Linked DNA regions of Homo sapiens: region 2 is linked to region 1. Evidence: fine-mapped expression QTL. A gene starts in region 1. The other region holds a variant in brackets. All regions are shown on one strand. Distances are from middle to middle. Region 1 holds the start of WIPF3 (WAS/WASL interacting protein family member 3). Region 2 has its middle 32 kb from the start of PRR15.

Region 1 (5,381 bases):
AAATATTTATAACACATTTGCTAGAAAACACATTTCCTTCCTTTTGCTGAGTTATTTGTGTAGGTTTCTTTTTTAAAAACTTCAACATTAATAAACATATTTATAAATTCTAGAATGTAAAAAAGTTGACTGCCATCCTGGTGAAAATTCTATGTTTCCCTCTACTGTTAATCACATTTTGTTTTCTCGGATCTTTCCTAGGTTATATTCTTTATTCTTTGTGTATGTGTTGGAGTGACTGCAAACTCGCAACCTGTACTATATGGTTTCTGAACAATAAGTCTCCTAAAAAGAGCGTTGCCAGGCTAGACCAGCTGGCTTTCCCCTGTTCTTATAACTGTATGTTCTTAGACACACACACACACACACACACACACACACACACTTCCTCCATTCCTTCTGCTGCTGGGTAACTGCAATCTGTGACACAATGTCACACTCACAATTACGTGAAAACAGAGACTCCTAAAGGAACAAAAAGGGGGCAATGGCAGGAAGCCAGCCTACAAGTGTCTGTCACCCTGACCGCTCTGCCCCGATTCAGGTGGCCACAAATTGCCTGTTGAAGGTTGCCTGTCTAGAATTTGAAGTCTGTGTGCCCAGGCTGTTACCCTGAGTAAGTAATTTAACCTCTGTGACCTTTTATTTTCTCATCTGTAAAAAAGGCACAATAACAATATCTCTGTTAAAGAATTGCTGCGAATCACAGGAGGTGATGCACATAAAGGCATCTGCAGTGTATGTTTCATTTCCAGTTACTTCTTAACTTTCTTTTGCCCCTCCTCGCCACTTCTTTTCTGATTTGGTTTTTGTGGTTTTTAAATGTATCTTTGAAATGCATTAGCTGGAAAACTGCAGCAATCTGTGTGTTACCACAATGAGTGGACTTTAGCATCACATTTTTATTTACTTTTTCACTGAGGTAGAATTTACGTTAAGTGCACAAGTCTCAAGGGTATAACTTCAGTAATTCTTAGGTCAAGGTGAGAAGCATTTCTAGCATCCCAGAAGCCTCCCTCATGTCCTGTCCAGGTATTGACCTGGAGTTTATCTCCTTGCAAGGCCCAAAAACAACCTCTCCTCTGACCTCTTTCGTAATGATAAAGTTAAAAAAAATTGAAGGGAGGCAGGAGTCCCAGTGATAACTATTAATGCTGGGCACAAGAAGTGCACTCCCAGTCCTCCCTGTGAAGTGAGAAAAGATTCTGGAAAGGAGGAGGCGGAGGGGCACAAACCTTCTAAATCACACTGGTCATGCCAAACAAGGCCCTCATTTACAGCCAAGGACCCCAGGCACAGAGGCGAAGAGACAGCCTAACTTCCTGCTACAGAGTAACTTTCCTCCCCAATACAGCCAGTTACAAAGCGCCCTGAGTGTCAGGGATTGGCCACACTGTCCCAGGGCGCATGGAACCGCTCTCCTGGCCTTTCCCTGCAGAAACTTCTTTCCAGAGGGAGGCGCACACACGGTCCCCACGCCGCCCCGGCGCCCGCCACGGGCACACCCACGCGGCTGGCACGCCACCCTCCAAAGGCGCTGTTCCTGAGAGCCGGTGCCTGCCTGCCCACGGGGCCCGGGCGGCGCTCCTCCAGGTCCAGGGCGGCCGGGTGCCCGCCCTCCCCGCCACCTTCAGAGAGTGCGTGTCAGGGGCTGGGGGAAATCTGCTCTGCCACCTACCTACCCACCACCTAATCCTCCAAAGGACCCTAAACCCATTTGTGGCCAAATGTACATTGCTGGAGCACAGTCTGACTACTGACCCCAGGGGCTTGGAGATGAGCACGGGAGGGGTGTCCAGAGACCTGCGCTCTGTCCCCATGAGCTGTGTGACCTTGGACAAGTCACTTCACATCTCTGGAGTTGGCTTCCTCACTAGGGGGCTCCTTCTGTATTCCCCAAGCCACCTCCGGCTCTGCAATTTCCTAGCTCTCTTTTACTCCGCCCCAGCCCTTCCCGCGACAGCCCCCTCCCCAGCGAGACCCCAGCCTTTTGTTCCGGGGGCGAAGCGGAGAAGAGAGAGCGTCGCGAAGGACCAGGCCGAGGCGGCCTCGGTGCCAGGGGCTGCTCACCGGGGAGTCCAGTCCGGAGAAGTCACCAAGCAACCCCGTGGTGACCTCGCTCCCCACCCCGCGGTTTGTTTCCGCCCGGCCCGGCCCGGCCCGGCCGGGGCGGCGTGGCAGGGTGCGGGTGGGGGGCGTGAGCGCCGCGCGGCACGTCGACAACCTCCTGGGCCCGGGGCTGCAGCCCGGCGGGGGTTCCCCGGCCCTCCCACGCCCTCAGGATCTCTGTCCCGGGCCGGGCCACTCTGCTCCGGGACCGACCAGGGCGGCGGCCGCCACACCGCCCGTTCCTTCCACCCTCGGGCACCGACCCGCACCCGCGCGGGAAGCCGCTACCTGCAGGTGGCGGAGCCGGGGGCTGGACTGGACTCGAGCTCCGGCCGACGTCTCCGCCGCCGCCGCCTCCGGCTCCGGGCTCCGTCCCGCAGCGCCCGTGCTCCAAGCGGCGCCGCTACCGCCGAGCTGCGCTCGGTGCGCCCGGCTCGCTCCCCGGCCACCGGCTCTGGTGCTGCCGGGACGCGGAGGCGGGGCCGCCGCCCCCACCTGCTCGCAGGCTCCTGCCTGGGAGCCGCCGCCGCCCCGCGGCAGGGACACGGCCCCGGCGGGCGGGGTCGCTCTGGGACCCTGGAGGCGGGTCCCAAGTCGGCGGGCGCGCCTCCCGGGTACAGAGTCCCAAGTCTCAGCTGCGGAGAGACTGAGGCCTAAGGCTGGAATTCCCCAAATAGGAGCTGTTGCGCGGGCGGCACACGGCCCAGCACAGCTACTCTGGGGACACGCCACTCCTTGAATTTATTCCAAAATGTTGAGCCCTTACTAAGCTCCAGGCGGTGTCATAAGCGATGGGGACGAGAGAACAAGATTACCTCTTGCCCTCGTGGAGTTCACAGTCTAGAAAAGGAAAGCGACCAATGGGCGATTACAGCACAACCAAGAGGAGGCAGAGGCCTCCTGAGCCGGCTCCCAGAGGGAGCACCTGATCTAAACTTGGGGTGGGGAGTAGGTCAGGGAGGGCTTCTTGAGGAGCTGACGTCGACGAGAAAAACTGAAGACTGAGTGTGAATTAGCCAGGTGATGAGAGAATTATCCGGGTAGCCTGGGGAGGTAGATTGATGTCCCAGGTAGAGTCGAAGGGAGGAGAAAGCAGACTGAAAACTGAAATAGGGCCGGGCGCGGTGGCTCAAGCCTGGAATCCAAGGACTTTGGGAGGCCGAGGTGGACGGATCACTTGAGGTCAGGAGTTACTAGCCTGGCCAACATGGTGAAGCCCTGTCTCTACCAAAAAATACAAAAGTTAGCCGGGTGTGGTGGCGCTCTCTAGTCCTAGCTACTCGGGAGGCTGAGGTGGAAGGATCTCTTGAACCCAGGAGGCAAAAGTTGCAATGAACCACTGCACTCCAGCCTGGGCGATAGAGTGAGACCCTGTCTCAAAAAACCAAACCAAACCAAACAAAGAAACAAACAAAAACAAACCTGAAATAAGCTTGAAGAACGGAAAACCTTGCTTCTGTCACATTTCTTGTTCAGGCCCTTGGAGGATGCAGAAAGTTTGTGTCCGAGGCTGAATGCATTGCTGTAGGTGCTGAGATCATTGGGTGAGGATTCTGTATTGCCCATGTCCTGGGCATTCCTGCTAGTGGAGGAGCTAAGCGGGTACTCGTGGACTGTTCACTCAGCCTCGGTGTTTGAGTATCTGCCATGAGCCAGACACTCTGCAGGGCCTCAGGGCAAGGTGTCTAACTCTAAAGTTGCTGCTGGTCTGGAATAGAGGAGAAACCTGGCGCTCAGCGCTGTGCTGAGGCTTGTGTGAAATGTTGGGGACCCAGGTGAGGGAGCAGCCAATGCCAGCAGGGAAGATCTCACACGTGGATTGCAGCCTGTATTCAGGTTCAAGTTCTGTAGTGGCTGCTGTCAAAGTATGTTCCCCAAGCAGCCCTTAGCTGATCTCTTAATTACTCATGTTTGTAGCTGGGCAATGTGTCGAAAGCAAGGATTAATAATACACTTTTGATGTCTTTCACTCCAGTGTCGTCAAGAACATGGTTTTCTCTTTTGATTTAGGTGACGAAAGGTCTATGTGTAGTGAGTGGAAGCTGATGAGGCACTTGCTTTCCACCTGTTTGTCCTGAGTTCCTCTTGCCCTTTCCTCCTTTAGAATCATAATAGATGACCACAGGTATGGAACCTGAAGAACAGTTCTCCAACATAAAATTCATAAGCCCTCTTACATGGGTGATTGTTACTAAAACAAAAACAAAACCCAAAACCCCAAAACATGACCCAGCCACTCTCCTTCTCTGGACCTCCAGTGCTAAAGCTCACTAAATACATAACCACTAGTATTCTAATTCAAAAAGGAAGAAAAGTCAAACTATTAGAGAAGACATTGCCATGGGCCTAGAGAGTTCCCATCAGATCTCCTGAGCAGCCCAAGCATGAGCCAGTTGGATGGAAAGCCTGTTATTTATCTCAAGAGATGCTGGATTGGATCAAAGAATTTGTTTTTTAAAATGCCTGGTTGTAGGGATGGGGAGGTGGTGAGTGAGGAATCAATTTGGACATTTGGGGCTGAAAGCTTCAAGAGGCATTCCATTCAGGTGATCAGTGTTTTCTATCCATGTGAAGTAACAATACCATTAGCATCTTGTTCCTACGGACATTAGGGAGGGATTCATTTCCACCTAGCTCCACTAAGACAAATTGACTTCAAGAAGGCACTAGCTCTTCCTAGTAGATGGTACTTGTTCAGTGGCAGACACTGTGAATTGTCTTCCCAATTATCAGTCTATTCTCCACTTCTTCCTTAGTGACAGAACCCAGGATTATGATTGATCCAAGACGACCATGACAATCCCCTTCCTGATTTCCCAGTCTTTCTTACAGCTAAGGAAGTCATTGACCCAGTTCTAGCCAATGAGTTGAAAGAAGGGTCTGGTGGGGGAGCCTCTGAAAAATTTTTTCTGGTTCTGTCTTTCCTTTTCCCTCTTTTCTTTTTTCTTTTTTTTTTTTTAGACAGAGTTTTGCTCTTGCTGCCCAGGCTGGAGTACAATGGCACCATCTTGGCCCGCTGCAACCTCCGCCTACGGGGTTCAAGAGATTCTCCTGCCTCAGCCTCCTGAGTAGCTGGGATTACAGGCGCTTGCCACCATGCCCAGGTAATTTTTGTATTTTTAGTAGAGGCGGGGTTTCACCATGTTGGCCAGGCTGGTCTCGAACTCCTGACCTCAGGTGATCTGCCCACCTTGGCTTCCCAAAGTGTTGGGATTATAGGCGTGAGCCACCGCGCCCAGCCCATTTCCCACTTTCTTTATGATTTGAATGCA
Region 2 (5,381 bases), 210 kb after region 1:
CTTAATAAACCTTTTTACTTTGCACAACACTGTGAGGTAAGCATTATTATTCTCATTTTACAGATGAAGATCACGCAGAAAATCAGCAGAGCTAGGCAATAAGTCAATCTAAAGTCTACATGCCCCTCCCTCTTCCCATGGATTCACGCCAAGTGACACGGAAAGCCACCGCCAGCTGCTGAGAAGGGCAGGACTGTAGGCTCACATTCTTCCCGACGCCAGAAAGGTAGAGGAGGTTTGGAGTTTTTTATTTCCTTCTACTTTAGAAAATGAAGCTTAGCATTTTCTCATTTCAACCATATCGAAAAGAAATAGGGGCTTTGAGGGGCTCAAGAAAAGGTGCAGTTCTAAGAATCTGCAAGTAAGAAGAATGGACACTTTACAGCTGTCTAACCACCCAAAGCATGCAGGGGTATCTAAATGTTCAACCTGTTAGGTAGGGATAACGTGCTCTTGTTACGTTTTAGAAATGACACTGTGGCTGCAAACAGTCACAACTGCCAACAACACTGGCCCAAACTTATTTGGTCATCAGAGAAATGCCACATGAATGCATATATGCATATATGTATACATATAGTACTTGTGTTCAGTCAATCCTCCTTATTCATGGAGTCCATATTTGCAAATTTACTGACTTATTAAAATTTATTCCAATTCCATACTTAGGATACTTTGGTAGTCACAGCCATATGCAGAGTAGTGAAAAATTCAAATCACCTCACGGGCACATAGGTTCCCAGGCAAGGTTATGCCTTCTTGTTTCAGCTCTCATACTATAAACAAGTGTCCTTTTCTGCTATTTAGTGCCATGTTACTCCCATTTTGTGCTTTTTGTAGTATTTTGCTGTTTCAAATGGCCCCCAAGCATAGTGCTGAAGTGCCAGCTAGCATTCCTAAGAACAAGAAGGTTATGATATACCCTACAGAGAAAATCCATGTTAGATAAGCTTCATTCAAGCATGTGTTATAGTTAGTGCTGTTGGCCATGAGTTCAATGTTAATGAATCAATAATACATATTAAGTATGGTGACTTTAAACAGAAACACACATAAAACAAAGTTATGTACTGTTCAGTTGACAAACGTTGTGACAAGAGGCACATCGGGGCTGGGTGCTGTGGCTTATGCCTGTAATCCCAGCACTTTGAGAGGCCAAGGCAGGTGGATCACCTGAGGTCAGGAGTTCAAGACCAGCCTGGCCAACATGGCGAAACCCCCTCTACTAAAAAATACAAAAATTAGATGAGCATGGTGGCGGGCACCTATAATCCCAGCTACTGGGGAGGCCGAGGCAGGGAGAATTGCTTGAACCCAGGAAGCGGAGGTTGCAGTGAGCCAAGATTGCGCCATTGCACTCCAGCCTGGGTAACAGAATGGGACTCCATCTTAAAAAAAAAAAAAAAAAAAAAGAGGCACACAGGAACCTAACCTCTATTTCCCCTGGGAGCAATGGTTCAGTATTTACTATTAAGTGAATCAGTGAATTAGTAATTCAGTAAAGTGGTGACTTTAAAAAACATAACTACTGTGACTAACAAGAACCAACTGTATGTTTATATGTATAGTATGAGTGTGTATACATATATGTGTGTGTATTTGTGCAATGCCTTATCTAATTCACTGAGGCCCTGAAAACTTAATTCTATATTATTCAGTGATAAATGATACCTGGAGAAAGCTATTATCATTCAATATCAAGTGCATTTTTCTTCATTAGAGCTTAAAGTTCCTATAATTGATCTTTTCTTCACTAGCAATATTTTTGAACAGTAATAATTTGATTGCATCAACATGAAAAATGTTACTTAACTAATTCTTGGAAGAGTGGGAGTATGTAGGCTAGAATAGTTTGTGAATGTTACTGCAAAATATTTACTTGGAATACGACTACATTCCAAGCAACATTTTCACTCCAGAAATCTGTCTAAGAGTTTGTTATCTAGTTAATAAATGGACTTTTGAACATCATGTCCTGTCCAAATCTCCTCGGTCACGTACCTTTAAGCAACTTAGCAATACCATTAAACACCAACTCAAACTGACTGAGTCAGACCCTCTGAAAGACTAATGCTACCTTTGCTAGGGAGGCCAAACATGAATCCTCCCAAACCTACTCCCTTCCCTGCTACCATGTGAGGGTGGAACAAGACACTTGTTAGTTTCATGTAATCTTGTTGTAGCAGTTCCAGCAGCTTTCTGGCATCTTCCTATTCTCCATGTTTGCCCAACTCCACAGTATCAACATGTCTTGAATCTGGGATAGAAATCAACTATGAAGAAGCAATAAAAAATAATACAAAGTTGTCATTTCTTATTTGATCATCTTCATAATTCCATTATTTTATAAAAAGCAGCATGTGTTGTCTAAAGAACCCTTGACTGGGAAACGGTATCATTTTCATCTATGATGTTAATTAACTGTTACTAGGCAAATGACTCAAGTAGGCCTGGATATTCTTATCTGTAAAGGTTGAGGTTGGATAGAGTATAATTTTAAAAAAATATTTTTATTTCAATAGCTTTAGGGG[T/C]ACAAGTGGTTTTTTATTAGATGGATAAGTTGTATAGTGGTGAAGTTTGGGCTTTTAGTGTACTCATCACCCAAACAGTATGTAGTATACCCAACAGGTGATTTTTTTTAAATCCCTAACTCCCTCTCATCCTCCCCACTTCTGAGTCTTCAGTGTATCTATCACTCTGTCTGCCTTTGCATACCCATAGCTTAGCTCCCACTTATAAGTGAGAACATGAGGTATTTGGTTTTCCAGTCCTTAGTTATTTCACTTAGGATTATGGCCTCCAGTTCCATCCAAGTTGTTGCAAAAGACATTATTTTTTCTTTCTCATGGCTGAGTAGTATTCCATGGTGTACACACACACACACACACACACACACACACACGTATATACACACATGCTACATTTTCTTTATGCCAAATTATTCTTTAGAGTCCATTTCAGGTGAAAAAATTCTAGATTCTATGCTTCTACCTGGACTACTTGGGATAATCTTGGGATTTTCCCAGGTCCTCTTGACATTCAGAAGACTTCTAATATGCTGTAGACCATGCAAAATTTCTAAAACAATATAATACACATCTTATTGGATTTGGCAATAGTCTCATCCAGTACTGTTTGGCTGAAGAATATGTTAGTTTTTCTCCACGTCATCCTTAGACATCTTAGGTATTGATAATCTGTTAATTCATGCATTCAGTGAATATCATTGAGCCCCTATTATGGTTTAGGCACTTCACAAAAAAGACAAGGTCCCTATCCTTAAGCAACACCAAGATATGTGGGTGCGCTGAGTTCGATAATAATTTGGTACTCAAAGTAGATGAATAGTTTGATATCCTGTGAAATTATAGTCTTTAATATGCTCGACATTTTTTAAAAAAGAGAAAGATCAGCACCAAAGAGAAATTTTTTTATGTAACTCAAAGATATAGAGCTAAGTTTTATTTTATCAGCTATATGAGGAATTGTGTGTGACAGTCTGAGTTAATTGACATCGTATTTTTTGGATTTATCCTAGAATTGGTTTTAGAGATCATTGAAAACTCCCTCCCTGTCAAGCAGCTACCCCTGGCCTCTCCCTGTTTGCCTGTCCTGGTGGTTATAGCCTTTTATTTTCCCTTTCAGTAATATTCAAGCAAAAGATATCAGAAAGTATTTATTAAATAGCTTACTATGATAATTTTTGCCCTTGGTGCCTAAATATTGATTTTATTCTTTTTGCAATTTGTATAAGCCATTCAACACCTTTTTTTTTTTCTCCCTCCCCCGAGACGGAGTTTTGCTCTTGTGGCCCAGGCTGGAGTATGATGGCGGATCTCAGCTCATTGCAACCTCCGCCTCCTGAGTTCAGGCGATTCTCCTGCCTCAGCCTCCGGAGTAGCTGGGATTAAAGGCGCCCGCCACCACGCCCATCTAGTTTTTGCGTTTTTAGCATAGACGGGGTTTCACCATGTTGGTCAGGCTGGTCTCGAACTCCTGACCTCAGGTGATCCATCTGCCCCAGCCTCCCAGAGTGCTGGGATCACAGGCGTGAGCCACCAACGACAGGCCAACACTTTAATGATAAAAGATGAAAATAAGCTATTAGCTTAATTAACTTTGTGATATTTCTGTGTTCCAACTTAGCTAAAGTCATTTCATATCTGTTATATTCTGTCCTGACTAAATTTTGTTTTTTGGAGAGGGCAAAATCTTCTAGACACATAATCTGCTATATAAAGAATTATGTAATTCCTTTCATTAGATTTTATACCATTTCCTATATAAATCAATGTTTGACAAAGCAAATCATATTTTCCCATTAGCTTACATTATAATGGTAAAGCATTTTTGTTTACTTATACATTGATCTACAATTTGGGGCCTCATTATCCTCATTTTGGAGCCTTTTCCATCATTTATCCTCTGCACCTGTAAACGCTATGATAATTCCAAATCTAAGACTATTTTTGGTGAATCTTTTTTGAGTTAAAGAGTGTTTTGGTAATAAAAAATAATTTCTGTCCCTAAGTGATCTGTTTTGTACATTCAGATTTTTCTTACAGTTTGTTAATTTAGGGGCATTCCTATAAATATTATGGATTTAATAAGTAATGTTTCCTGGGAGTCTTGAAATATAGAAGTTATGATTTTACAATAAAAATATTTTAACCATTTAGGATGCCAGGTGTGGAAGAACAAGACCCCACATCTGCATAATCTTGCTTCTTGGAATCAAGTAAAATAAAAATTTCCTTAATATTCAACACGTTATTCTTTTCTTACAAAATAAAATAAATACATTTTGTATAGAAATAGTGCTCCTTATAACTTATTTTTGTCATTTAGTTTGCTGACCTATGGAGTTCACTGTGAACCCAAAATCTACAATCCCTCCTTAGATCTACCTAAACAGAAGGAAAATTAATATCTCCTTCCAGGTTTTAATCCCCCAAAGAAAGAAAATTATTTGTCTAAAGTATATTTCTAGAACTAGTCTAAAGAAAGTAAGATTTTGCTAAACAATTTGGCTGATTTTTTCTGTCTCAGAAAGTTAAGATTTTAAATCAAAAGTCACTTAGTGTGATCTTGCATTATCTTAAAACTCAATTATAATTAACTTGCTTTTCTAAAGAAGAGAGAGCTAGTCTTAAAATGAGACCTTTGCCATTTAATGCTGTGTTCAAATGTAAGTTAGAGAATTAGAAAAGATAAGGATCCCTATTGCAAGCTATTCATCAACTAAGAATGTATCTGTTCTTGAGATTGTTAAGGTGTGGTTGAAGTTAAATGATTTGCTCACAGAAAGAAATTTTTAAATACATATGGTAATCTTTGACCTTTACTATACTGAGTCAACTGAGTACAAGAGTAACTTCCCT

The links. PIP is the estimated chance that this variant, and not a neighbour inherited with it, causes the effect.
Region 2: its variant is fine-mapped to the expression of WIPF3 in lung (TOPMed, PIP 0.98).

Annotation. Positions count from the first base shown.
Region 1 is chr7:29,803,695-29,809,075 of GRCh38, reverse strand. WIPF3 (WAS/WASL interacting protein family member 3) reads right to left here and starts at 2,568. Exons shown (of 9, transcript NM_001080529.3): 1 at 2,398-2,568. RefSeq lists an enhancer at 1,923-2,832.
Region 2 is chr7:29,593,584-29,598,964 of GRCh38, reverse strand. No RefSeq gene overlaps it. Among named protein-coding and RNA genes, the nearest start is that of PRR15, 32 kb to the right of the region's middle. The variant T/C (reference allele first, on the strand shown) is at 2,532.